Regions from separate parts of the Homo sapiens genome. Here region 1 is linked to region 2. The links come from fine-mapping of genetic effects on gene expression. A gene starts in region 2. The other region holds a variant in brackets. All regions are shown on one strand. Distances are between the middles of the regions. Region 1 overlaps CCR3 (C-C motif chemokine receptor 3). Region 2 holds the start of CCR2 (C-C motif chemokine receptor 2).

Region 1 (15,312 bases), 96 kb before region 2:
CATTTAGTTTGATTTCATGCAAAGGCTATTATTTTTCATACAAAACATTCCAAGTTCTGCCAACTATGGCTGATGTTTTGGGACTGTTATCATCCTACTTCCTTCTATAGTCTAGGTTGATACTAACCCTCTTAAAATTTGGTGCCTGGAACAGAACATAATATTTCAGATGTGTAGTCTGGACAGTGCAAAGCAGAGTAAAAATTATTCTACTCCATCCTTTCATACACTTAAGAAGAGTTTATTAAGCATCTTTCATTTGTCAGGCATCATGCTGGACACTAGGCCTGTACTGTCCACTATGGTGGCTACTTGCTTTTATGCGTGTCCGTGTGAAGAGACCACCAAACAGGCTTTGTGTGAGCAACATGGCTGTTTATTTCACCTGGGTGCAGGCGGGCTGAGTCCGAAAAGAGAGTCAGCGAAGGGAGATAAGGGTGGGGCCGTTTTATAGGATTTGGGTAGGTAGAGGAAAATTACAGTCAAAGGGGGTTTGTTCTCTGGCGGGCAGGAGTGGGGGTCGCAAGGTGCTCAGTGGGGGTGATTTTTGAGCCAGGATGAGCTAGGAAAAGGACTTTCACAAGGTAATGTCATCACTTAAGGCAAGGACCGGCCATTTTCACTGCTTTTGTGGTGGAATGTCATCAGTTAAGGTGGGGCAGGGCATATTCACTTCTTTTGTGATTCTTCAGTTACTTCAGGCCATCTGGGCGTATATGTGCAAGTCACAGGGGATGGGATAGCTTGGCTTGGGCTCAGAGGCCTGACATTCCTGCCTTCTTATATTAATAAGAAAAATAAAACAAAATAGTGTTGAAGTGTTGGGGTGGCGAAAATTTTTGGAGGGTGGTATGGAGAGAGAATGGGCGATGTTTCCCAGGGCTGCTTCAAGCGGGATTAGGGGCGGCGTGGGAACCTAGAGTGGGAGAGATTAAGCTGAAGGGAGGTCTTGTGGTAAGGGGTGATATTGTGGGGATGTTAGAAGAAACATTTGTCGTATAGAATGATTGGTGATGGCCTGGATATGGTTTTGTATGAATTGAAAAACTAAATGGAATAAGAGAAGGAGAAAAACAGGTATAAAAGGTCTAAGAATCGGGAGGACCTAGGACATCTGATTAGAGAGTGCCTAAGGAGATTCAGCATAGTCCTGCCAGCAAAGATTATTTATTTACTTCAAGAGTTAAGAGCGGCGGTTTGGGGATAGCACGAGGAGATATCAGCTGTGATGGCTTGAAAAAACAGTGTAAACTGGCAGTGTAAACAAGAGCAGGGCATGTATGAGTAGTTGAGAACAGAGAACAGGAGTATGACTAGATAGAAAATAGTAGGGATGACAAGTTTTTTTGGGGCACAGTCTAAGGTGGTCCGGTGTCTGGAATGAGACTGGGGGCCTAATGAAAAGGAGCATCTATACAGGAACTTAAATGGGCTGTACCTTATAGCATTCCGAGGACAGGTCTGACTTCTGAGAAGGGAAAGTGGTGAAAGTATTGTCCAGTTCTTTTTAAGTTGGTGGCTGAGCTTGGTGAGGTGTGTTTTTAAAAGACCTTTAGTCCGTTCTACTTTTCTTGAAGACAGAGGACTATAAGGGATATAAAGGTTTCACTGAATACTAAGAGCCTGAAAAACTGCTTGGCTGATTTGACTAATAAAGGCTGGTCTGTTATCAGACTGTATAGAGGTGGGAAGGCTAAACTGAGGAATTATGTCTGACAGAAGGGAAGAAATGACTGCGGTGCCCTTCTCAGACCCTGTAGGAAAGGCCTCTACCTATCTAGTGAAAGTGTCTACTTAGACTAAGAGGTATTTTAGTTTTTGTGACTCAGGGCATGTTGAGTAAAGCTAATTTGCCAGTCCTGGGCAGGGGCAAATCCTCGAGCTTGATGTGTAGGGAAGGGAGGGGGCCTGAATAATCCTTGAGGAGTAGTAGAATAGCACATAGAATAGCAGATGGAACACTGAGAAGTGATTTCCTTGAGGATAGATTTCTACAATGGAAAGGAAATGAGAGGTTCTAAGAGGCAGGCTAGTGGCTTGTACTATAGCATAGCCTGCCTTTGCTGGTGTGTGGTGATTAGGCCTGGTGGAACTGCCATCAATAAATCAAGCATGATCAGGGTGAGGAACAGGAAAGAAGGAGATATGGGGAAATGGGGTGAATGTCAGGTGGATCAGAGAGATACAGTCATGAGGGTCAGGTGTGGTTTCTGGAATAATGTGGGAGGCTGGACTGAAGTCCGGGCCAGGAATGATGGTAATTGTGGGAGACTTAACAAAGAGTGAGTACAGCTGAAGGAGCCAAGGAGCAGAAAGTATATGCATCAGGTATGAGGAAGAAAATAGATTTTGGAAGTTATGAGAAATGTAGAGAGTGAGTTGAGCATAGTTTGTGATTTTTAGGGCCTCTAAAAGTATTAAAGCAGTGGCAGCTGCTGCATGCAGACATGAGGGCTAGGCTAAAACAGTAAGATCAAGTTGTTTGGACAGAAAGGCTACAGGGTGCAGTCCTGGCTCTTGTGTAAGAATTCTGACTGCACTAACCATGCCTAGGAAGGAAAGGAGTTGTTGTTTTGTAAGGGATTGAGGTTTGGGAGATTAATCGGACAGGATCAGCAGGGAGAGCACGTGTGTTTTTATGAGAATTATGCCGAGATAGGTAACAGATGACGATGAAATTTGGGCTTGACTGAAGTAATGGGGGCTGTCTGTGAAACCTTGTGGCAGTACAGCCCAGGTAATTTGCTGAGCCTAATGGGTGTCAGGGTCAGTCTAAGTGAAAGCAAAGAGAGGCTGGGATGAAGGGTGCAAAGGAATAGTAAAGAAAGCATGTTTGAGATCCAGAACAGAATAATGGGTAGTAGAGGGAGGTATTGAGGATAGGAGGTTATATGGGTTTGGCCCCACGGGGTGGATAGGCAAAACAATTTGGTTGATAAGGTGCAGATTCTGAACTAACTTGTAAGGCTTGTCTGGTTTTAGGACAGGTAAAATGGGGGAATGGTAAGGAGAGTTTATAGGCTTTAAAAGGCCATGCCTTAGCAGGCGAGTGATAACAGGCTTTAATCCTTTTAAAGCGTGCTGTGGGATGGGATCTTGGCATTGAGCAGGGTAAGGGTGATTAGGTTTTAACGAGATGGTAAGGGGAGCATGATTGGTCGCCAAGGAGGGAGTAGAGGTATCTTATACTTGTGGGTTAAGGTGGGGGAATACAAGAAGAGGACGCAAAGGAGGCTTTGGATTGGGAAGAAGGGCAGCAATGAGATGCGGCTATAGTCCAGGAATAGTCAGGGAAGCAGATAATTTGGTTAAAATATCTCGGCCTAATAAGGGAACTGGGCAGGTGGGGATAACTAAAAAAGAGTGCATAAAAGAGTATTGTCTAAGTTGGCACCAGAGTTGGGGAGTTTTAAGAGGTTTAGAAGCCTGGGCATCAATACCCACAACAGTTATGGAGGCAAGGGAAACAGGCTCTTGAAAAGAAGGTAATGTGGAGTGGGTAGCCTCTGTATTGATTAAGAAGGGGATGGACTTACCCTCCACTGTGAGAGTTACCTAAAGCTCGGCATCTGTGATGGTCTATGGGGCTTCCGAGGCGATCAGGCTGTGTCAGTCTTCAGCCGCTAAGCCAAGAAGGAGTCAGTCAGAGAGCCTTGGGCCAGAGTTCCAGGGGCTCTGGGAGTGGCTGCCAGGTGAGTTGAACAGTCTGATTTCCAGTGGGGTCCCACACAGATGGGGGAATCCTGGGCTGCAGGCATTCCTTGGCCTGGTGGTCAGATTTCTGGCACTTGTAGCAAGCTCCTCGGGGAGGAGGTTCTGGAGGAACGCCTGGCCACTGCGGTTCAGGTGTTTGGAAGTTCTTGTGTGCTGGGGATGTGGCTGGGGTTTGTCTCACAGTGGAGGCAGGGAATTGCAACTTTTTTTTTTTATCATTGTACACCTTGAAGGTGAGGTTAATTAAGTCCTGTTGTGGGGTGTGAGGGCCAGATTCTAATTTTTGGAGTTTTATTTAATGTCGGGAGCAGATTGGGTAATAAAATGTATATTGAGAATAAGATGGCCTTTTGACCTTTTAGGGTCTAGGGCTGTAAAGCGTCTCAGGGTTGCTGCCGAATGAGCCATGAACTGGGCTGGGTTTTTATATTTGATGAAAAAGAGCCTAAACGCTTCTGATTTGGGATAAAGAAAAAGGAGCATTAACCTTGACTATGCCTTTGGCTCCAGGCACCTTTTTAAGAGTAAATTGCTGGGCAGGTGGGGAAGGGCTAGTGATGGAACGAAACTGTAAGCCGGACCAGGTGTGAGGAGGTGAGGCGATAAAAAGATTACAGGGTGGAGGAGTGGAGGCTGAGGAAGAATTGGGACCTAGCTTGGCCTGGCAAGGAGGGGAGAGGTCAGATGGGTCTGTAGAAAAGGAAGATTAGAAAGACTCAGCGATGCTTGGGGTTGGGACTGAGGGGACAGGCGGGAGGGAAACAAGGAAGATTTGGGACAAGTTGCACTGGGCACAGAGACTAGGAAGGGACTGATGTGTAAAAGAATGCCTGGACATCAGGCACCTCAGACCATTTGCCTATTTTAAGACAAGAATTATTTAGATCTTGTAGGATGGAGAAATCGAAAGTGCCATTTTCTGGCCATTTAGAGCCATTGTCAAGTTTGTATTGGAGCCAAGCAGTGTTGCAGAAGAAAATAAGGCGTTTAGGTTTTAGG[A/T]CAGGTGTAAGTTGAGGTTTTAAGTTCTTGAGGACACAGGCTAAAGGAGAAGAAGGAGGAATGGAGGGTGGAATTTTGCCTATAGTGAAGGAGGCAAACCCAGAGAAAAGAGAGAGTAGAGACATGGAGGGAAGGGGTTCAGGGGTTCTTACCCTCCAGAAAAGCGGGAAGGGGGGTTGGGGCATGGAAATAAGGGATTGGGGCACAGAGATAAGAGGTCTGGGTGCGGAAATAAGGGATTGGGGCACAGAGATAAGAGGTCAGGGTGAGGAAATAAGGGATTGGGGTGCAGAGATAAGAGGTTGGGGTGCAGAAATAAGGGATTGGGGGTTCTTGCCCCCTAGAAAAGTGGGACTTGCCACTAAGAGTGAAGGAGAAGGGGTTGAGGGGTACTTGCCCCTCCCCCAGAAAAGCAGAGAAGGGGTAGAGACATGGAGAGAAGGGGTTGAGGTACTTGCCCCTTTCCCAGAAAAGTGGGACTTGCTGCTAAGGGTGAAGGACCAAGGCAGGCGTCCCTGCGTGGTCTGACACCCTTGAAACGTGGGTGAATAATCAGAGAGGCGTCCCTGCAATGATTAAACACCAAGGGAAGGCTGCCTTCCCAGTCTGTGACCGGCGCCGGAGTTTTGGGTCCATGGATAAAAGGTGTCTCCTTTGTCTCTACCAGAAAATGAAAGGAATTGAAATTAAGAGAAGGGAGAGATTGAAGTGTGGCGCCAAGATTGAAAGGAGAAAGAGGTTGAGGGATAGTGAGGGAGGTTGGAGAAGAGAGTAAAAAGAGGCCGCTTACTGGATTTGAAGTTGGTGAGATGTTTCTTGGGCTGGTCGGTCTGAGGACCTGAGGTCGTAGGTGGATCTTTCTCACGGAGCAAAGAACAGGAGGACAGGGGATTGATCTCCCAAGGGAGGTCCCACAATCCGAGTCACGGCACCAAATTTCATGTGCATCCTTGTGAAGAGACCACCAAACAGGCTTTGTGTGAGCAACATGGCTGTTTATTTCACCTGAGTGCAGGCGGGCTGAGTCCGAAAAGAGAGTCAGCAAAGGGAGATAAGGGTGGGGCTGTTTTATAGGATTTGGGTAGGTAAAGGAAAATTGCAGTCAAAGGGGGTTTGTTCTCTGGCAGGCAGGAGTGGGGGTCACAAGGTGCTCAGTGGGGGTGATTTAAAATCACCTAGCCAGGATGAGCTAGGAAAAGGACTTTCACAAGGTAATGTCATCACTTAAGGCAAGGACCAGCCATTTACACTTCTTTTGTGGTGGAGTGTCATCAGTTAAGGTGGGGCAGGGCATATTCACTTCTTTTGTGATTCTTCAGTTACTTCAGGACATCTGGGCATATATGTGCAAGTCACAGGGGATGCAATGGCTTGGCTTGGGCTCAGAGGCCTGACACTTTCTACATGTGGTTATTTAAATTAAATAAAATGAAAAGTTCAGTTTCTCAATTGCAGTAGCCACATTTCAAGTGCTCAATAGCCATGAGGCTAGTTTCTGTCTTTTTTTTTTTTTTTTTTTTTTTTGAGACAGGGTCTTACTCTGTCTCCCAGACTGGAGTGGAGTGGCACGATCTCAGCTCACAGCAAACTCCGCATCCCAGGCTCAAGAGATTCTCCTGCCTCAGCCTCCCGAGTAGCTGGAATTACAGGGGTGCACCACTACTGCCCAGCTAATTTTTTTTTTTTTAAAGTAGAGACAAGGTTTCACCATGTTGACCAAGCTGGTCTTGAACTCCTGACCTCAAATGATCCACCCACCTTGGCCTCTCAAGATGCTGGGATTGTAGGCATGAGCCACAGCACCCAGCCAAGTGTCTCTCTTATCAGACAGCACAGATACAGAACATTTCCACTAATACAGAAAAATTCTATTGGACCACTGCACAGATAACTAACTTTTCTGGATACTCCAGGTTTTTTGAGAAAAGAAATGAAGGAAGGGAAGGAAGTGGGAGGGGATCAGCTTAATTGCATAGATGGGAAGCAAGTTGAATATCTAGATGGGTAATTGGATGGAAACAAGAAGGGATAGCTGGTGGAGAGGTGGATGGAGAGTCAGGTGGTAGATTTCATTTGTTCTGGATGATACAGCAATATAGCCTACCATTAAATTGGCTCTTGTGTTTGCCATTCATGGTGATAGCTTCTAAAGAACTTGCAACTAAGGATATTCTTTATTCTACCCCTAAGTTTCCCCTTTTCTTTCCACTACATTTAAAATAGGTTGGAGGGTTACATGACTCAGGGATTTAAAAAAAAAAAGTTCAAATTTAGGAGGGACTTCATGTCACATAGTCCAGGAGTTGTCAACCTTGGCTGCACAAGGGAATCACCAGAAGAGCATTAAGAACCACTGAGAGCCAGACCCCATCTCCAGAGACTCTGATTTAATTGTTCAGGGTTATAAGCTGGGGATTTTCAAGAGCTCCCCAGTGACTCCCACATGCAGCCAGGACTGAGAAATGCTGCTCTAGCCAATCTTCCTCCCTCTGGGGGAATCCCTTCTACCCCGTCCCTGATAGGAAGTCACTCAGCCTCTGAGTGAATTCCTCCAGTCACAGCTCACTCAAGACCTCACATGGCACCCATTTCATTGCTGGATAATTCTACTCAAGGTGTTCTTGAGTGGTGGTTGAATTTGCATCTTTGAACTACCTCTTGCTGGTTCTGGGAGGCTTTGCAGGGAGTCACACATAATTCTGATTCTCATCTGCCCAGCCAGTATCATACTCTCTCCCCTCCCCAAAGTGGATTTTCTCCAGGATGGATACGCTTGGCTTCTTCAACTCATCTTTACTGGGTAAAGCTTCCTCTTGACTGCATTTCAATTGGTCAATGTTTGCATTAAATGAGCCCTGGACATATTTGGACCACTTTCGGATGCTGTGAAATGATCCTTCCCACTATCTGCATATAACACTTTTATTAATTTAGATTAAATTAAGATTAAATTTAACTAAGTTTACATGCAGGAAGTTTCTTTATTAACCCCATCACATGTTAACCTTTAAGGGAAACTAGAATTACCGGATTCTTTTGGAGTATTTTTGTTCTACTTTTATTTTAGGTTCAGGGGTAAATGTGCAGGTTTGTTATACTGGTAAATTTTGTGTTGATGCCCAGTGTGGGTAATCTAAATTCTGTTAATAGAAAACTGTTTAAATTCCACACAGTGGAATACCATCTCGCTATTAGAAAGAATGAGGCCGTTCTACAAGTATTGATATAGAAAGATTTCCAAGATGTAAGGTTTAAAAAGGCTCAGAAAACTTGATGTTTCTTACTCTGATTTATGTACCAAAGAATGAGACAGTTCTACAAGTATTGACATAGAAAGATTTCCAAGACATAAAGTTTAAAAAGTCACAGAAAACTTGATATTTCCTACTCTGATTTATGTACCAAAAAGCCACTTATAATTATGTATATAAATTCAGCCACCACTCAAGAACACCCTGAATAGAATTATCCAGCAATGAAATGGGTGCCATGTGAGGTCCTGATTTATGTACCAAAAAGCCACTTACAATTATGTGTATAAGTACATAAACAAATATCAAGAGGGCTCGACAACAAACTCCCCTCTGAGGAGGAGAGGAAATTGAGAAAGGGGAGAATAAAAGAAACTTTACATTTGTCAAAAATAAAATCAGATCAAAATTTAAAGTTGCAGAAGTTTATTGTGCACACAAAAGAACAGTTTGGGAGTGAGGAGACATAGATCTGAAAGTGTAGGGATTCCCACTTAGAGCACTTACAGCATAGTTTATAAAGCATAAAGGGGAAGTATTTTTCCCCCCTGGGTTCAAAGTTCTTTTTTAAAAAAAAATCAATAGGTTTTAGGGGAACAGGTGGTGTTTGTTATATGAATAATTTCTTTAGTGGTGATTTCTGAGATTTTGGTGCACCCATCACCTGAGCAGTGTGTACACTGTACTCAATGTGTAGTCTTTTATCCCTCACTCCCCTCCCATCCTTTCCCCTGAGTCCCCAAAGTCCATTTTATCTTTCTTATGCCTTTGCATCCTCACATCTTAGCTCTCACTTATGAGTGACAATGTACAATGTTTGGTTTTCCATTCCTGAGTTACTTAACTTAGAATAATGATCTCTAATTCCATCTAGGTTGCTGCAAATGCCATTATTTCATTCATTTTCATGGCTGAGTAGTATACCATGGTGTTGCTATAAATGTGTGTGCAAGTATCTTTCTCATATAGTGACTTATTTTCCTCTGGGTAGATACCCAGGAGTAGGATTGATGGATCAAATGATAGATCGACTTTTAATTCTTCAAGGAATCACCACATTGTTTTCCATAGGGGTTGTACTAGTTTACATACCCATCAACAGCATAAAGTGTTCTCTTCACCACATCCACGCCAACATCTATTTTTTTTTTTATTATTATAGCCATTCTTGCAAGAGTAGGCAGTATCACATTGTGGTTTTGATTTGCATTTCCCTGATAATTAGTGGTGTTGAGCATTTTTTCATATGTTCGTTGGCTATTTGTATATCTTCTTTTGAGAATTGTCTATTCATGTCCTTAGCCTACTTTTTGATGGGATTATTTGTTTTTTTCTTGATGATTTGTTTGAGTTCCTTGTAGATTCTGGATATTAGACCTTTATCAGATGTGTAGATTGCAACGATTTTCTCCCAATCTGTTGGTGGTCTGTTTACTCTGCTGATTATTTCTTTTGCTGTGCAGAAGCTTTTTAGTTTAATTAAGTCCCATCTATTTATCTTTGTTTTTGTTGTATTTGCTTTTGGGTTCTTGGTCATGACCTCTTTGCCTAAGCCAATGTCTAGAAGAGTTCTTTTGAGGTTATCTTCTAAAATTTTTATGGTTTTGGGTCTTAGATTTAAGTCTTTGATCCATCTTGGGTTGATTTTTGTCTATGGTGAGAGATGAGGATCCAGTTTCATTCTTCTACACATGGCTAGCCAATTATCCCAGCACCATTTGTTGAATAGGGTGTCCTTTCCCCACTTTATGTTTTTGTTTGCTTTGTTGAAAATCAGTTTGCCTTAAGTATTTGGGTTTATTTCTGGGTTCTCTATTCTGTTCCATTGGTCTATATGCCTGTTCTTATTCCAGTACCATTCTGTTTGGGTGACTATGGCCTTATATTAATAGTGTAGTTTGAAGCTGGGTAACGTGATGCCTCCAGGTTTGTTCTTTTTGCTGTGTTGCTTTGGCAATGTGGGCTCTTTTTTGGTTCCATGTGAATTTTGGGATTTTTTTTCAAGTTCTGTGAAGAATAATGGTGGTATTGAGATGGAAATTACATGAATTTGTAGGTTGTTTTTTGCAGTATGGTCATTTTCACAATATTGATTCTACCCATCCATGAGCATGGGATGTGTTTCCATTTTTTGTGTCATCTATGATTTCTTTCAGCAGTGTTTTGTAGTTTTCCTTGCAGAGATCTTTCAGTATTTTGAACTTTTTTTGTGATTTGCTGTTATACATTAACATGGTGTTGCAACAAGAACATTTAAAGCTGATTTGTCTATAGCAGATTGGTTTAATTTCACTGAATCATGCTGACAATGACATAAACTTTATATTTTGTGTTTCATTTATTATTACATCTGGCTTTTCAGGGAAATCAGGATGACTTCAGTCTTGGCTATGTGGCTATGGGTGGTTGGCCTTGAGGAGTTTGGGCTGTAATCCTGAAAAACACAATCCTGAATGCCATAATCCCAAATGTTGAAATCCAGAAAGACTAAAATTTTAAATCCAAAACCACAATCCCAAAATATTAAAATCCTGAAAATATAACTCTGAAAACAATAATTTAAAAGACATTTATTTATATTCCTATAGGTGGATTTATTTTGAAAAACTTATAAAAACACAACAGAACACTTCACAATAGGGAATAATATATATATTTTTGCAAGCATAAACACTCAGGTATACTAACAACAGTCACAAGGGTATAACAGTTATGAGCAGATGAATTTTATTCATAAATAAATAGTGTCAAAATTTTATTCATAAATAAATTGCGTAAAAAATCACAATGTATAAATGCATATCACTATAGTTAATAATTGTGTGCACCCAGCTTTATAAACTGTAGTCATCTGAAATACTGTGATGGACATCCTAATTCTTTGGATGAGATCAATCGAGAATCATGATGGGTCACCACCATATTTGCCAGTTGCCCAAAGAGCCAAGACCTCGAGAAATTGTATCTTTCACAAACACAGAGGCACAAAAAGGACATCTGTTTATTTATCAAGGAGGTCTTCACATTTGTGCACACACACACACACACAATGCTTACACACAAAGTTGTAGTAGTAATGTACCTTCAGGAGTCAAATTTGCAAAAAAAAATTGCATAAAACATAATAAAACTCTCTAAATGTCTTTACACAGTTTATAACTCCACTACTGAAAATGATGCAAAGATTAAATACATAGCATAGTGAATTGGCACTAGGGGTGAAGGAACAGAAGTGATACACAATTGAGTAACTTGGCAAGGGAAATTTCTTGTATTTTTTCCGTGTGTTTTCACTTCTAAGCTCTTCAAAACACTTGCTGCACTTGTATTTGGAGAGTCGTTGTTGTCTACACATTGCCTAAGTATATGCTGTCCATTTAAAAGTCCGTTTATTGCTTGGCTGTTGCAATTAAAGGATTGGTGCTTTTGTAGCACCAATAATAATCAACTTTAACATTGTTATCTTTCACCATTAAAGTAACCTCATACACTTAGCTTGTCCCAGGCTTTTTTTTTTTTTTTTTTTTTCTGGGAAAAAAGTTCACCAGTCTCTTCCATTGAGAGTAAAGGAAGAGTAATGGAATATTGTGATGCTCATTAGACACTTAAGATGAAATTTTGAGTAGGAATTTGGGTCAGGGCTTAAGACATCAATTTGAGAGTCCTTAACATGTATTAGTATTTAAAACCATAATGGCATATCATTCCAGTAAGAAGGATGATACTCAGCTTCCTCAATACCAAATCTATATTAGTCTGGGTTCTCCAGAGACAGAACCAATAGGATATGTATGTAGATATATGAGATGGGATTTATTAGGATAATTGGCTCACAATTAAGGCGGCTAAGAAGTCCCACAACAGACCATCTACAAGCTGGAGACCCTGGAATACAGGTAGTGTGGCTCAGTGTAACTCTGAAGGCCTCAGAAACAGAGAAGCCAATGTTGTAACTCTCAGTCCTAGGCTGAAAGCCACTGAGTTGGGGGAGGTGGGTAGTTGTATAGTTCAAAGGCTGGTGAGCCTGGATTTCTGATGTCTAAAGCAACAGAAGAAAAGTCTGTTCCAGCTCTCAAAGACAGACCAATTTGCGTTCTGTAATTGTTCTCTTCAGGCCCCCAGCTGATTGGATGGTGCCTGTCAACCCTGAAAGCAGATCTTTCCCACCTAATCCACTCAGACTCACACAGTAATCTCTGGAAACACTTTCACAGACACACTCAATACAATGCTTCAACAAGTTTCTAGTTATTCCTTTACTCAGTCATGTTGACATCTAAAATTAAGTCCACAGATCCACCCTTTGTCAAGTTGACATGCATACACATCTCCTTAAACCATACTTAATTTCCAAATAAAGATAATAGCAAGTAATAGTTCTTCTTAACACGATGCAACTAACATTATGCAACTACGGTGTGTACAACCAGAAATGCACTAATCCTTCCCCAGAATTCAGCTTTCAGGATTTCAACATTAGGAATTTTAGTCTTTTAGGATTGTGATTTTGATCTTTTGGGATTTCAACATTATAGCATTTGGGATTGTGTTTTTCAAGAATATGATCAGCACTGGGCCTTGGGACATATCTAAACTGTGGCCTTCATTTTTATTTTTCTTTAACAATTCCCCACTTTTGGTCATCCTCTCGCTTGAACTGAGAATGTGACTGGCTATTACCCTTGGTTACTACATGTTGCTTTCCTTTCTGTAGACATTTATAGGTCACAAACTAGAATCTCAGTAAGTTATTTTGATGACTCTTATTCATATAGTTTTGGTTTTCAATCCTCACGGAGATCAACTGTTGAGTTAGTGGCTGCTGACAAGCATTTAAGATCCTTGTGAGACTACATTGCATAAGGGATATTATCAATATGACTAATAGGAGGATAATACCAAGAGTCTGAAAAATACCCCAAAACCAACCAAACCAACCTACTTAAGAGCCAAGATTTAGCCAATCAATTGTGCTTCCCTGATCTGGTAGAATAGTAGGATCTGATCTCTTAGATCTCTAAGATTTAGGGCTACAATTCCTGATTCAATGACATAGAAACAGCATTTTAAAAAATATGGCTGTTTCACTCTAATAGATTTTCTTGGCTTGCAGTTTGAATGTCTCTGGTAATGTCAGTGGAGGTCCAGGGAACTTTCTGAGTGGCTGTGCAGCAACATGCACAAAAGATGTTCATATACAAGCTGTTGTGGTGATTTCTCTGAAGTTTATTTTAGGTAATTCAACTTCAGCTTGCAGGACTGTAAGGCTAGAAACAACCCTAGTTCAAAACTGTCAGAAACCTGTATGTGTCAGAGTCTTTCTATGAATTTCATGTCATTTTGTACCATAAGGTATTTGCAAAAGCTTTCAGGAAAGCACCAGAGTAAAACAATAACTGCTGTGGATGAACAATGGTTTAAAATGCCCCTGAGAATTTACTATAATGCAGTTGAAGAAGAAATTTGGTTATTTCTGTGATATACAACATTTTGGCTGATAAAATATATACAACATATGGCTGATATACAACACATGGCTGGTAAAATTATACCAGGACATATCTGATATTTAGGAAATTCATATAATTTCTGAAACACATATTAATAAGATATATCTATACAAATATAACATAAAGAAGATTTAACATTATTTCTTATTTGGCAGTTCTTCCCATGCAATGTAATATGTTAAATAAACTTAATTAGTCTAACATCTCTCTTTTTATAATATAAGGAGAGAATAAATTCCTTTGAGGTTTTTCCAGAGGCTCTCTGCAAAATTCCAAAGTTAGCTTAAGGTAAAAAAAGACTGTATGTAGAATTGATTTAGGAAGGTTGTCAAAAATGTCTAAAGATTTAAAGCACTTGATTAAATAGGATCATAGTTCACTGTGAAACAATACTTAGGTATCCATTTAGCCAAAGTGACAAGTAAAAGATTTCAAAGGCAAATACAGAAAGTTACATAGTTGTATTAGTCCATTTTCATGCTGCTGATGAAGACATACCTGTGACTGGGCAATTTACAAAAGAAAGAGTTTTATTGGACTTCCAGTTTCATATGGCTGGGGAGGCCTCACAATCATGAGGGAAGGTGAAAGGCACATCTCATATGGTGGCAGACAAGAGAAGAAGAGCTTGTGCAGGGAAACTCCCCTTTTAAAAACCATCAGATCCCGTGAGACTCATTCACTATCAGGAGAACAGTGCAGGAAAAACCCACCCCCATAATTCAATCACCTCCCACCGTGTGTCTCCCACGACACATGGGGATTGTGGGTGTTACAATTCGAGATGAGATTTGGGTGGGGACACAGCCAAACCATGTCATTCTACCCCGGCCCCTCCCAAATCTCATGTCCTCACATTTCAAAACCAATCATACCTTCCCAACAGTCACCCAAAGTCTTAACTCATTTCATCATTAACTCAAAAGTCCACAGTCCAACATCTCATCTGAGACAAGGCAAGTCCCTTCTGCCTATGAACTTGTAAAATCAAAAGCAAGTTACTTACTTCCTAGATACAATGAGGGTACAGGCATTGGGTAAATACAGCCATTCTAAATGGGAGAAATTGGCCAAAACAAAGGGGCTACAGGCCCCATGCAAATTCAAAATCCAGCAGGGCAGTCAAACCTTAAAGCTCCAGAATGATCTCCTTTGACTCCATGTCTTGCATCCAGGTTATGCAGATGTAAGAGGTGAGTTCCAATGGTCTTGGGCAATAGTTAAGAAAACAAAAATGAAAAATCTTAGTTCCTGTAACACAAATAACTCTATTTTCTTAAGTAATCAAAGATCTTGATAAACACAACATGAGGCAGAGGAAATTATTTTGATGAGAAATAAAATCTGCTCTTTTAGGCAGATCACTTAAAAGGCAGAGAAAACACTTTCATTACTCTTATCAAGAGTAGACTAATAATCCAAGAAAACTTTGTGGTTTTTAACAGAAAGAAGACCAAATTCTAGTTTTGCATCAGTGTACTTTGATATTGAAAGCCCATTTTAAAATCCTTGTAATAAATTCATTCAATTTTATCCAGTTTAACCACATAAGATTCTCTCTCTCATTCTTTCTCTCCCTCCTACTTTCTATGTTCATTTAACTTTTGTTCTTTATTATCCTCTTTCTTCATGTTGAAATAACCTTTAAATAACCTTCAAAACAGATCAAAATCACATTCCCAGGTATAAAACCTTGATATTGTAAAGTTATCAATTCTTCCTAAATTTATTTACAAATGTAACACAATTCCACCCAAACTTATGTTTTTATAAGTAATTGAGTAGATGATCCTAAAGTTTAATAAAACAAATGGCTCTAATAGGTAAGACATTTGGAA
Region 2 (14,995 bases):
CATGGCAGAAGGGCAAAGAGAGGGCAAGAGAGAGCAAAAGCAAATTCACAGCATCAATCCCTTTTATAATCAGCATTACTCTATTAATGAGGGCAAGACCCTCATGGCCTAATCACCTCTAAAAGGTCACACCTCTTAATACTATTGCAATGGTAATTAAGTTTCTAATACATACTTTTTGGGAGACATTTTCAAACTATAGCACCTACCCTATAGCCCAACATTTCTACTCCTAGGAGTATGCCCTAGAGAAATTCTGCATAAATATCTAAAGAGAGGCCATTGTTGCATTGTTAGGTACTGGAAAATTGGAATCAATTACTATGTCTACCAGCAGCAGAAGATGGCTTTTTAAAAGTTTTGGTTTATTCATGAAATGGAATATTGCATAAAGTATGCTCCATCTCACCAGATGAAAACATTTTTCACTAGGACTATTTCAAAAGTAGTCTTATCACTGGGCTTCTCTATTATGCATAAAAATTTTAAGTGAACATGTTCTTTGACCTAGTACTCCTACTTTTAGGAATTTGCCCAAAAGGGACAATTATACTACTGGGATAAATCTTTGAATCATAAAGTAAGTTGTAAATGGTACAAGCAGTATGTCTTATTTTTATTTAAAGCACATTAACAATATTACACATATAGTAAAAAATAAATAAATAAAACATGTGAATAATAAACACCCAATTTAGAACAAGTGTTGACAGTGGAGAGGGAAAGAGAGAGAAAGAAGGAGAAATGGGGAGTGGGAGCGGGTACACAAGGAAATTTTAGTTGCAGCTCCAAATTTTTACTTTTTACACAATGAAGCGAATATGGCAAAATAAGATTTGTTAAAGTTGGGCAGCAGGTACACAGATATTCTATCATTATCCTTTGAATATTTCTGTAGATTTAAGTTGTCCATTAAAAAAATAAAATACACACATAATTTTTAAGATTAGTTTTTTCTATTTCCTGGCCTTCGCATGCACTGTTAACTTTACCTGGAATTCTTTATGCAGTAATTAAGAGCAAAGGTGTAGAGCAAGACTGCTTGAGCTTGGATCCCAGCACTGAGTTGATTTAGGGAGAATAACTTAATCTCTTAATCCCAAGAGAAAATATGATATAATAGTTTTGAGCTCATAAAGTTTTCATAAGCATTAAATGTGACCTATATATGTAAAGCAATCTAACAGTGCCTATAGTATTTATAAGTGTCTGCATTACCAAATTCATCATTATCATGGCATGTCATGTCACCATCCACTACATTACCATCACTGTCACCATCATCATCATCACCACCACCATCATCATTAACTCCCTTTGTCTAGTCAATTCATATTTGTTCTTCGTATTTTAGATACCTGTTAAAATATTTTTTCAAAGATGTCTACTCTGATTCTTCAGTACAAATTTGATTTAATAAGATCCTATCATTTTGTCCAAATACTTATAAAAATTTGTAGTTCTATATTTAATGTGTTTTGTTTGTTTAACATCTCTCTCCTACATTGTGTTAAGTTTTTTAAAGAGAAGGTAAGGGTTAAAGAGAGACATAGAGAGAGAAAGAGAGACAGAGAGAGAGAGAGAGCGGTTCTACAGCAATACAGGTATATTAGAAAAACCTGCAAAGGTGGGGACCAGCTTAATGCCAGAGCCCCCCACTGCTTATAGGCTGGGGTACTTATAGGTCTGGGGGTACTTATAGGCCTGGGTGGGTGGGGTCTGAGCAGTATGGCTTGCTGCCCAAGAAGATGTTGATAAGACGTTCCCATGATGAGGCAGTTTGGTCCTTGCTTCCATAGAGTGTGATGCTTCTTGCACTTTTTCCCAGCAGAATGTGGTAGGGATGTTCCTTCAGGTGGGCCTTTGCCTGGCAGGGTATGATAAGGATGTTCCTGTGCCTTGGAATCAGGTAGTTAGACAGGATGTTTCTCACAGCCTGAACCCCCATGGAATGTTTCACTTTGACCAGGGTCTGCGAAATAGCAGGGGGCTTACAAAATGGTGTAGTTTGGACTAACACCTTGGAACACAAAAGTTTCTTGGGGCCAAGGCTGGCGTATTAGTCTGTTTTCATGCTGCTAGTAAAGACATACCTGAGACTGGGTAATTTATAAAGAGAAAAGAGGTTTAATGGACTCACAATTCCACATGGCTGGAGGCCTCACAATCATGAGGGAGGCAAAGGAGGAGCAAAGGCACGTCTTACATGGTGGTAGGCAAGAGAACGTGTGCAGGGGAACTGCCCTTTATAAAACCATCAGATCTTGTGATACTTATTCACTATCAAAAGAACAGCACGGGAAAAATCTGCCTCCATGATTCAATTACCTCCCACCAGATTCCTCCCATGACATGTGGTAATTATGGGAACTACAATTCAAGATGAAATTTGGGTGGGGACACAGTCAAACCATATCAGCTGGGTATGTTTTATTCACCTTTTTATACCCATTGTCATGTCTTCTGGACAAACAATGGATGTAAAATGGTATAGACTCCTGAGTACTCATTTGTTGAATGACAAATCTATGAACCATTTGACCAGTATGCAGCAGCCATTAAAATTATGTTTATGAATAATTTACAGCATGGAAAAATTTGGGGTTGCTAGTAGAAAAACAAAAAGGTACAAAAGGATATATATAATAAGCCTACAATGCCATATAAACAATACTAACAGCAAAAACAAACCTATAAATTGGGGGAAGATGGGGCAGATAGAAGTAACCTAAAATACTAACATGTTGTTTTGGGGTCATGAAATTATAAATGATTATGCACCCCTTAATTTTTACTTTCTATGTTTGATTTTTCTATGGTAAATGCATTTTTATTGAGGTGGAATTCACATAACATGAAATGAAAAATTTAGTGGCATTTATTATATTCACAATATTGTACAACCACTAGCTCTACTTCCAAAACATTTTCATCACTCCAAAATAAAACCTTGTACCCATTAAGCAGTTACTCCCCATTATTTCCTCTCTTAGCTCCTAGCAACCACCAACCTGCTTTCTGTCTCTAGGGATTTATTTATTCTGGATATTCCATAAAAATGGAGGCACAATATGTACCTTTTATGTCTGGCTTCTTTCACCAAGCATGTTTTTGAGGCTAATCCACATTGCAGCATGTATCAGTACTTCATTTCTTTTTATGAATAACTGTATACAGACCACAATTTGTTATCCATTTTTTGGTTTATGGACATTTGGGTTGTTTCCATCTCTCAACTATTGTGAATAGTGCTGCTATGTATATTTGTGTACAAGAATTTGGTTACCTATTTTCAATTCTTTTATGTATATATCTAAGATGAAATTGCAGGGTTATATGCTAATCCTATGTTTAGCATTTTTTTTTAGGAACCATTAAACTGTTTTCCAAATCTGATGCCCCATTTTATATTCCTACTAGCAATGTAAGCAAGTTCCAATTTCTCCATATCCTCAACAACACTTGTTATTTTCTATTTTTGTTATAGCCATTCTAATGAGTGTAAAGTGATATATCATTGTGGTTTTCTTTGCATTTTCCTTATGAACATTGATGTTGAGTACCTTTTCATGTACTTTTTGGTCATTTATATATCATCTTTGGAGAAATGCCTCTTCGTGTATGTTTTGCCCATTTTAAAACTAGATTGTCTTTGTTGTTGACATGCATGCATTCTTTAAATATTCTGCATACTAGGCCCTTATCAGATATATGATTTGCAAATGTTTTTTCTCATTTTACTGGCTGTCTTTTCACTTTATTGATAATGTCCTTTGATGCCCAAAAGTTGTTTATTTTGATGAAGCATATTTATCAATTTATTTCTTTTATTGCTCATGCTTTTGATGTCACCTCTAAGAATTTATAACCAAATCAGAGGTAATGAAGGTTTACCCCTCTATTTTCTTCTAAGAGTTTTATAGTTTTGACTCATTTACTTAGGTCGCTGATTCATTTTTAGTTAATTTTTGCATATGATGTGAGGAAGAGGTCCAACTTTACTCATTTGCATGTGGATATTCAGCTGTGCCAGCACCATTTGTGAAGAGTCTATCATCTCCTCATTTAATAATAGTATTGACACCTTTGTTGAAAGTCAATTGATAATAAATGTATGAGTTTATTTCTGGAATCTAAATTCTATTCCATTGATCTACATGTCTATCCTTGTATCAGTATCACACTATCTTGATTACTGTAGATTTGTAGTAAGTTTTGAAACTAGAAAGTGTGAGTACTGCAATATTCTTCTTTTTCTTTTTTAAAGATTGTCAGGGCCTCTTGCAATTTAATAGGGATATGAGGATTGACTTTTCTATTCTACAAAATTAAAATTTTGTTAGAGATTGCATTGACACTGTAGGTAGCTTTCAGTAACATTGCCATCTCAACAATTTTAAGTATTCTAATACATGAATATGAGCTTTCTTTCTCTTTATTTAGGTCTTCTTTAATTTCTTTCAGCAGTGTTTTGTAGTTTTGGGGTACAAGTCTTTCACCTTTAAATTTTGGTGAAATTTATTCCTAGGTATTGCATTTTTTTATGCTATTGTAAATAAAATTATTTTCTCAATTTCCTGTTGGATGTTCATTGCAGGTGTATAGAAACTCAACTGATTCTTTGTGTTGATCTTATGCTGAGACCAGCTCAGTTGGGGAGACCCTAACCTAGAAGCACTAGAGGAATTAAAGACACAAACACAGAAATATAGAGGTGTAAAGTGGGAAATCAGGCGTCTCACAGCCTTCAGAGCTGAGAGCTTCAAACAGAGATTTACCCACATATTTATTAACAGCAAGCCAGTCATTAGCATTGTTTCTATAGATATTAGATTAACTAAAAGTATCCCTTATGGGAAACGAAGGGAAGGGCTGAAATAAAGGGATGGGTTGGGCTAGTTATCTGCAGCAGGAGCATGTCCTTAAGTCATAGATCACTCATGCTATTGTTTGTGGTTTAAGAATGCCTTTAAGCGGTTTTCTGCCCTGTGTGGGACAGGTGTTCCTTGCCCTCATTCCGGTAAGCCCACAACCTTCCAGCGTGGGCATTATGGCCATCATGAACATGTCACGGTGCTGCAGCGGTTTTTATGGCCAGTTTTGGGGCCAGTTTATGGCCAGATTTTGGGGGGCCTGTTCCCAACAATCTTATACCTTGCAATTTTGCTGAATTTGCTTGTTAACTTTGATAGTTTTTTTGAGGATTATTTGGGATTTTCTACATATCATGTCATCTGTGAATAAAGATAGTTTTGCTTCTTTCTTTCTCATTTGGATGCCTTTTATTTCCTTTTCTTGCCTAATTTCCCTGGCTAGAACTTCCAGTATGATGTTGAATAACCATGGTGAAATGGGCATTCTTGTCTTTTTCCTGATGTTAGAGAGAAATTTTTCAGTCTTTAACCATTGAGTATAATGTTAGCTGTGGGTTTTTTACAAATATCTTTTATCATGTTGAGGAAGTTCCTTCCTACTCCTACTTCTTGGAGTGTTTTTGATATAAAGGGTATTTAATTTGTCAAATGCTTTTTCTGTGTCAGTTGAGATTATCATGTGAGATTTTTTTTCCTTCATTCTATTAGTGTTGATGTTACATTGGTTGATTTTTTATGTTGTACTACATTTGCATTCTTTATATAAATTTCACTTGGTCATGGTGTATAACCCTTTTAATATGCCATTGGATTTAGTTTGCTAGTATTTTGTTTAGAGTTTTTGCATCTATATTCATAAGCAATATCAGTCCACAGGTTTTTTGTGGTTTATTTGTCTGGCTTTGCTATAATGGTAATGCTGTCTTCTTAGAATGAATGAGGGAGTGTTTTCTCCTCTTTCATTTTTTAAACGTTTGAGAAGGAGTGATATTAATTTTTCTTTAAATGTTTGGTAGAACTTACCAGTGAAGCCGTCTGGTTCTTAACATTTTTCTGTGTTGGGAGGTTTCTGATTACCAATTTGATCTCTTTAATTTTTACAGATCTTTTCAGATTTTCTATTTCTTCTTGAGTAACTTTTTAGCAATTTATGTATTTTAGAAATTTGTTCATTTAATCTAGGTTATTTAATTTATTGGTGTGCATTTTTTCATAGTATTATCTTATAATCTTTTAATTTTTGTAAAGTTGATAATGTCCCCACCTTACCTGATCTTAGTTATTTGTGTCTTCTCTGTATTCTTTTTGTCTTCTTCTTCTGTCTTAGCATAGCTAAAGGTTTGTCAACTTTGTTGATCTTTTAAAGAGTCAACTTTTGCTTTCAGCATGCATTACTTTTTAAATAGAAATATATACACCTAAGTTGCATTACAAAGGAGTTGTCCTCCACACACTTATTCTTTCCCACCATCAGAGGTTTATGGTCCCCGCAAAAGTCACCATCAGTTGGGCTCAACTCCAATCAGTCATGGTAGGTCAGGGTCCATCTCATTGTCTCCATCACTCATGCCCACCCAGGGTAAGTCTAATCATGTTCACCAATCAGAACCTCTGCCACATCAGCTCTGTGGGTTTCCTCTCATGCCATCTGTACCAACAATGAGCACAGTCTGGGTTTCCTGATGTTTTCTATAGCATGGTGCCCCTCCCTGGGACACCTCAGAAGCCACAATGATATTCATTAAACTTCTTCCTGCAAGTACTCCCTCTATTGCTCCTTCTACTCACCAAGCTTAGTGTCAGGGAATATGCTGGTGGGGAGTATGAATCTTAGCTTCTCACTCCCAGACTCGGCTCCCAACCTGCTGTTGCCAAGTCTTGGGGACATCTATAAATGCCTTCTAAATACCTGTCTTGGCCTATCCCCAGCCACAGATTCCTCCCTAGAGCAGGCTACCTCTGAGGCATCTATACTGAGATCTTAATCACAGAGACATTTAAAACATCTAGGCTACAAAAGAATTCCTACTATAGGGTTCAAATGAATTTCTTTCCGTCACTTGAGACAGCTTTTTAGCAAGTACATGTATTAAAGATTCTGATTTCCCCTTTTTTCTCCTACAGTTTGTTTGGCCTAAAGGTATGACATCTAATCTGCTGCATTTACACTCTAAGTCAAAATTACCATTTTGTTCTTTTAATTTCTATTTCTAATCATACATTCTTGTCTACTCCTGGTTCATCTGGAGACAAAGTTGAACTTAGAAGATGGAGGAGAAATTCTTATCTGCCCTCTGCTAGTTGACACTTCCTTTCCAAGAATCATTTGCAGTTGCTGGGCTTTCTTGCTGTGACTCTATGCCCTGTTGTGTTACTTTTTCATTTGTGACAAAAACAGTGGTAATAGTTTGCTTCATTTTTATTATGAAGACTTGACCAGGATAGGTAGGAACATAATTACTGCTTTTTCTGTGGGCATCATATTGGTCCAGATCATGTTTAACCAGAATTGAAGATGTAAAATCCTAGAACTCACTAATCTATTTTAGTAGGTCACAGGAAGCATGCAAACCATAAAAACCGCAATGAACCAAAAGCATCTGTGTTGACAAGAGGCAAGAATTTCTCTATTTTCTAAAGGCACTAACTGAACAAATCTATTGCCCATTACTTAGGAAATTGCTAAGGGCATCGTTAAAGTACTTCAGGCTGTTGAAAAACCTTTTCTGTCTTCTTGCCCCACCACCAATTCTCTCTAGCTATGCTTTCTCTCACATGTTCTTGCCATCCATGGAGTGGCAGAGAGGTTCTGAGTACAACTCTAACTTTCAGTTTCAATGGCCTAATCCCCAACTCAACTGCTGACCTTGAGTGTAAAAATAAACAAGATCTTAAACATCTTAGGGCCAGCATTCTGGGTCTTCTTTTGTTATTTGGGGAGCATAAACTATTCTCATATCATTGGCTTGCAGAAAAATTGAGCTTCTCCTCTTCCTTGCCCCATGTCACCTTGAGGTGACCACAGCCCTGCCTTCTATGTAATCCTGCTTGGTCAGCAGGCACATCAGAGCTCAGTGGCTTGTGACATACTTTCCTTCAAGCCTGCTCGAAGGGCCATACTCATCATTGAGACTGGGAACCTTAGAAACCATGAACCCAGTGCCAATGGGTAGATACAGAATTCTCAAACTCATGAAAAAACATCCTTTTTAACTCTCTCCGTGTGCATAAAGAATTCTAAGATGTACTGATCAAGATTCCCAATTTTCTAACTATCTATTAATATATGGACGAGGTAAGAAGAAAGTTGCAAGAAAAAAATTTGTTTGACTTGACGGTTGTGTGGTTATTTGCCACACTCCCCCAGATCCACTCTGAGTCCCAGGATGCTGATTTTAGGGGCTACATTGCCTAGACTGTCCATTATTCCCTCTTCCCATCTGGTTCAGTCACTGGGAAGCACTGGTAGGAGGTCAGAGTGGGAGAAGGAGGTTAGGATACTTTCTGCCCCTGCTGTCCTACTGCTTTGCTGAACTTCTAGCAGTGGCTGAGCCATCAACCTGCAGCTCTCAATTCCAGCTGTCTGTAGCACTCAAGTGGTATTGTTTATTCTTTTGATCCTTCTAGCTGTTAAGGAAGAAAAAAATAATTTTTTCCTCAATGCTCATAAGTTCTTGGAATGGACCCCTGTAACAAAAGACAGATTAACACGAGAAAAGTTTATTAACGTACATATTTTATACGTACATAGGAGCTATCCAGGGAATGAATAATTCTTAAAAAGGTGACTTTGAATTCCAGCTCATATAGCATCTTCAACAAAGTTCAGTAACATTTTAGAGATATGACAAGACAAAGAAAATGAACTTTGAGCCTCTAGGGACAGTGACTTGTAGGAAGGCAAAAGGAATAAATGGAGGTAAAGGCTGGTTAGTAATACTTGTTAATGAAGATTCCTCTGGTGCCATCTCCAGGTCCACAAGGATTTAAATTTGTCTTCAGTGGTGAACCTTTGTTCACCCTGGCAGAAGGTGTGGAGGGGGGTGCAGATCCGTTTTGTCTTTGTAAGTCTATATCCTGCTTTTAGACAAATAAAGGGAGGGAAAAGAGCTTTCCTTCATCTGCTTCTTAATTGCCTTCAGCTCAACAATCCTTATGCAAAAGAGGTACATTTTAGGGTGTCAAATTCTGGTCTCCCACAAAGCATAGGGATGACAGACCACCTCACCATCCCTGTTGCTTCTTTTAAGCCTGCTCACCCCTCCAAAAATATTTTCATTCTATACTGTCTCTTCAAAATCTCAGCGGAGGGTGCCCTCTGTTATCCTGCCCTCTGTGTCAGTATAAGCCAAAGGTTTGAATCCTGGCTCTGCAACTATCTACCTCTGTGCCTCTCCTTGTTTATGAAATTACAGGGCTGGAGACAAAGATCACAATGTGAAGACAAAATTGGAGAGCGGTCCTAATCAGCCAGAGCAAAATTTCTGGCTCTTGCTCTTCCCCATCCTGGGTTGAATCATAGGAACAGGTGGCAAGATGCCAGGGTCAGGAGATTCCAGAAGTGGCAGCAAGCTCAGTGTTACCAGGTCAGGGATGACCTGTCTTATTATTGAAATCTCAGAGATATGCTCCAATTCCGGCCCAGAGACACATTGAGAGACAACTGGGGAACTTGCTATGTTCCTGAACAGGCAATGAGCTGTCTTCCAAGAAAAAACCTGAGACCCTTCAAGTCTCAGGTCTTACTTAGCACATATACCAGGTCTTACACAGGACACATGGTTACAACTGACTGAAATCTGGGCTGGGTGTAGGAGCTCACACCTGTAATCCCAGCCCTTCAGGAGGCTGAGGCAGGCAGATTGCCTGAGCCCAGGAGTTCGAGACCAGCCCGGGCAACATGACAAAACCCCATCTCTACAAAAAATAGTCAGGCATGGTGGCATGCACCTGTAGTCTCAGCTACTTGGGAGGCTGAGATGAGAGGATTGCTTGAGGTTGAGACTGCAGTGAAGCATGATCATGCCACCGCACTCCAGCCTAGGCAACAGAGCAAGATCTTGTCGCAAAAGAAAGCAAAAACACAACATAACACAACAACAACAACAACAACAACAACAGCAAAAAAGCCAACTTCTTGAAATCTGGAAAGGACACCTGGACTGCCCTGAGCATTTGATTGTTGTTGGCTCTAGCAGTGGATGCATCCTTCAACCTCTGGCACTCTGCAGGGCTCAGACTGTTCTGTTCTGTTTGTTACCTGTGGAGTGCCTGCCAGACCCTGCTCTAGCTGCTTTAGGTCCATTTACCCTCATAGACCCCCAGTCTTGTTATTCATATTTCATATTTGGGAAATGGAAACTTAGAAACTTGCCAAGTCCACAGCATGAGATCCTGCCTCCGGTGTCTGCTGGATTCCAGAAAGTGCCAGGGGCCAACTTAGATGACACCATGTTCTCTGCACAATCTTAGGAATGCTCCTAGTCTGATGTCCCCATTGCAAAATTTACATTATCTTTTAACAAAACGTCTTTCCAAGGAGGGGCATTTAAAATAACTGAGGTTCTTCTTGCTAAGGACGTTCCTGACACAAGAGATAATTTAGCATTTCCTTTTCATTAAAAAGTTTGAAATCCTGTAATTTGTGATAATGTGGATGAACCTAGAGGATGTTAAGTGAAATAAGCCACACACAGATAGACAAATACCACGTGATCTCACTCTTATGTGGAATTTTTTTTTAAATAAGTTGCTTAGCCGGGCATGATGGCACACACCTGTAATCCTAGCTACTCAGGAGGCTGAGGTGGGAGGATGGCTTGAACTCAGAAGGTGGAGGTAGCAGTGAGCTGAGACTGTGCCAGTGCACTCCGGTCTGGGTGACAGAATGAAACCCAATTTAAAAAAAAAAAAAAAGTTGCTATCTTAGAAAAAGACAGTAGAGCAGTGGTTACCAGAGACTGGGGAGGAAAGAGAGGAGGTGAGAATGGGCAGCAGTTGATCAACGGGTACAAAGTTACCATGAGATAGGAGAAACAAGTGCTGGTGCTCTGCTCCAAGTAGGGTGACGGTAGTTAATAATGAATTCTGTATATATAAATAGCTAGAAGAGAGGGTTTTCAATATCATTATTATTTCAAAAGAAATGATAAATGTTTCAGAGGATGGATATGTAATTACCCTGATTTGATCATTGCACAATGTATACATGTAGCAAAACATCACATTGTGTCCCATAAATATATACAATTATTATGTGAATTAAATAAAAAAAAATTTTAAAGTCTTATCTAAATGAAATTTCTAACCAGATTCTGAATCCATGATACCACTGAAACCAGCACACATGATCGCAGTAAAACCTCATTATACTTCCTCCACTATCACCAATACCCTTTATTCTCTGGAACATGAAACATTCTGTTGTGCTCATATCATGCAAATTATCACTAGTAGGAGAGCAGAGAGTGGAAATGTTCCAGGTATAAAGACCCACAAGATAAAGAAGCTCAGAGTCGTTAGAAACAGGAGCAGATGTACAGGGTTTGCCTGACTCACACTCAAGGTTGCATAAGCAAGATTTCAAAATTAATCCTATTCTGGAGACCTCAACCCAATGTACAATGTTCCTGACTGGAAAAGAAGAACTATATTTTTCTGATTTTTTTTTTCAAATCTTTACCATTAGTTGCCCTGTATCTCCGCCTTCACTTTCTGCAGGAAACTTTATTTCCTACTTCTGCATGCCAAGTTTCTACCTCTAGATCTGTTTGGTTCAGTTGCTGAGAAGCCTGACATACCAGGACTGCCTGAGACAAGCCACAAGCTGGTGAGTTGTAGGCATTTTTTCCATTACTTTCTGATTCATAGGCTCAACGCACCTCAAAGCTGGAAATGCCGGGTCTGGGTACACCCTGGGGAACTGCAAAGCCTGCACACTTGGGGGGAATGATCAAGATGAGAGGCAGGGGTGGGGATGGCATGTGCACCAGGAGATGTTAGAGAAACCCTGAGGAAGAGCAGCGTGCAGCAGGTGATGGGGGAGAGTGGGCAGCAAGCGAGGCCAGGACAGCCACTCTGCTCAGTCACCAGTCCACACACCCAGGGGCTCACTCTGCCCCTCTGAGCACCCAAGGACGTTAAAGAGCTGGAACTGTTAGTCTAAATATAGGACCATCCAAGCTCTGAACCAAAATGTGTCCCTTGCCTCAACTCAGGAGATCCACAGAGGCAGAAGTAAGGAATTTATTTTCTGAAAGATAGATTTCTATCAGTTCTGGGTGACATGTTCTGACACTTGAAATGACACCTAGGACAGCACATTTCAGGCATCTTGCTCATTGTTCACTGTAGTAGAAGCTACATGCTAGCCAGTTGTAAAAATGAAATTAAGTAATGTGTGCACAGCATTTAACATAGCATCTGAGCTTCAGGAGCACTCAATTAATGACCACAGTTGTGATTCTTTAGGCAGATGCATTTTTTTCCAACTTTGATCAGAGGTCTTATTTAGCTTCTCCAGATTTCAAGAATCTGGCTCAGTGATATGAAATACAAGACTTGTGAAAAGTGTCAATTGCAAGAGAAATGGAAGGATAAAGTATACAGGTGGGTGGAAAAGAAATTCACAGTCACTGCCAGAAAAAAAATTCTTGAGAATCAAGTCCTGATGATGTTAGGGCTTATAGTTCTTATTATAAAGAGTTTTATGTACTCATTCAGTGAACATTTATTGGTGCCTCCTTTAGCCAGGTACTATCATAAGAGCTGAAAATAGAAGCATAATCCAGTCCTTGATCTTGAGGAACATGCTGTGTGTAGCAGATAACATAATAAGTGCTTATCTAGATGCATGCAGTGTTATGTGATAAGAGTAATATGACAGAGGATACAGATTAGGCTTCACAGAGAAGGGGGATTTGAGCAGGAGGTATTGAAGGGTGAATAGAAGCTCACCAATCATTTTGGGCAGAGGGGCAAGGACCTGCAAAACCACTGAAGCATGAAGGAAATGGTGAGTTTAGGGAAAATGAAGAGAAGATGGCTGTGACTGAAGCACAGGATTTGGGATTGGAGAAGGGACTGGAGGTGAGGCTGAAAAGAGGCAAACTCAGAAAAGATGTTGTGCTGGGCAGTCTGGACATTATCTTTGAAGCCCACCACATATAAGTCATAGGGCTACTGGAGGTTTTAAGCTAAGAGTGACTATTCAATTTCAACTTAAGAGAAGATAGGTTGAGAGGGAACATGGCTTGAGATGAGCCATGAGCAAAGGAAAGACTACAACAAAGCCAGGAGTGAGGAGTGTGTGAAGCAAGAAAGTGACAGTTGAAAGCAGTGCAGAGGGGATGAATCTGAGAGGCATCTATGAGGTGGAACTCAAATGACATGATAATAATACAGGGCATTTCTCTGTGTCAGATGCTGTCCTAAGTCCTTACTCCATTGATCTTCACAGCAACTCAGCATAGTTAATATTTTATGCATAAAGAAATCGGCACTTGAAGGAGTAATTGGCCCCAGATTACACTGCCTATAAGGATTCAAATCCAGGTTTGTTTGGCTCCAAAAACTGGCTCCTAATTTTCAGAAGGAGAAGCAACCCAGGGCAATGCCCAATTTTGCTTCTTAGGCAATGGAGGAATCCACAATCGGAAGGAGTTTTCAGCAGTGCCCCATTTGGGGTGGGTTGAATTTGAGGTCCCTGCATGATACCCACTTTGCTCACTTCAGTGCCTAAAACTGAGTATGGTTCATAGTAGGTGTTCAATAAGTGTTGATGCAGTGAATACATGCATGGGGAGATATGCATCAGGCAATGGGAAATTCAACTCTAAGGCTTAGGGGAAAGCTGGAGCTTGAAGACAGAGCTTTAGAAAACAGTAGCATAGAAGGGAGTAGGAACCATGAGTTTAGACAATACAATTCAGGAAGAACTTTGTAGCAAGGATAAAGAGGCAAAAAATTAAAGAGGTGAGAGCTAAGTGTGGTGCCTGGGGAATCTTAAGGTGTGGGCACGGGGAGGAGATGCCAGCAAAGAACATGAATAAAAAGCGGTAGCACAGCCCCTCCCATCTGGAAGCCAAAAAGAATTGTAAATGGAGGAAGTTAGCAGAAGGATCAAATACTTGAAGAGGGTGGAATTGGAATAAAACCAGGGCATTTGAAAAATTGGGTTGTCACTGCAATCTTAACAAGAGAAGTTTTGGCAGGATGATGGAGGCAGAAAGCTGAGAGAATCATCAGTTAGAACGTTTTTGACTTCAGAGAACAGAAAATGCAGTTCATAATGGCTTTAAAACAGGGGCTTGTTTTTCTCCCAGCAATTTGAGAGGCCAAGGCGGGTGCATCAGGAGGTCAAGAGACCGAGACCATCCTGGCCAACATGGTGAATCCCCATCTCTACTAAAAATACAAAAATTAGCGGGGCATGGTGGTGCACGCCTATAGTCCCATCTACTCAGGAGGCTGAGGCAGGAGAATCACTTGAACCCAGGAGGTGGAGGTTGCAGTGAGCTGAGATCATGGCCACTGCACTATAGCCTGGAGACACAGCGAGACTCCGTCTCCAAAAAAAAAAAAAAAAGAAGGCAGAAGGTGAATAGTTCAAGGGTGGGTTTAGGACTCAGTGATAATAGGATTCTGCCTGGCTTCTCATGGTTCTCTAGGTCTTCCATTCATGGCACCATGCCCTCACTAGGCATGCTGCCAGAGCAGGAGGGGCAGGTGGAGGGTTCTCTTGTGTCTGTCTTATCAGGGAAGAAGAGCTTTCTCAGAAGCCCCCAGCAGACTCCCTTTTCATATTATGGTCCAGCAATGAGTCACAGACCTATGCACCACCTGCAAAGGAGCCAGAGAAAACAAACGCCCAGCGCTTTTAGCCTGAAAATGAGAATCTGGTTTGCTGGGGAAGATAAAGGGTGTCGGAAAATGGCTGTTGGGTAAATCATTGATGTCTGCCACTAGGAATGAAAGGCAAATCAGGAACTGGCACACATGCTTTCAGGGAGATGGCTGCAAGGGAGAGGGCAAAGACTGGGAAGTTGCTTATGTGGTGCCAGACTATTTGGAAGATCATGGATTGCGGTGTTTGTGTTGTGTGGTCATCATTTTGTTCTTTG

Evidence for each region.
Region 1: its variant is fine-mapped to the expression of CCR2 in whole blood (INTERVAL, PIP 0.93).

The regions. Positions count from the first base shown.
Region 1 is chr3:46,245,957-46,261,268 of GRCh38, forward strand. The region is part of intron 1 of CCR3 (C-C motif chemokine receptor 3); the gene reads left to right. Among named protein-coding and RNA genes, the nearest start is that of CCR3, 11 kb to the left of the region's middle. The variant A/T (reference allele first, on the strand shown) is at 4,714.
Region 2 is chr3:46,342,475-46,357,469 of GRCh38, forward strand. It overlaps CCR2 (C-C motif chemokine receptor 2), which reads left to right and starts at 11,637. Exons shown (of 2, transcript NM_001123396.4): 1 at 11,637-11,703. RefSeq lists a silencer at 2,055-2,261 and an enhancer at 7,754-7,903.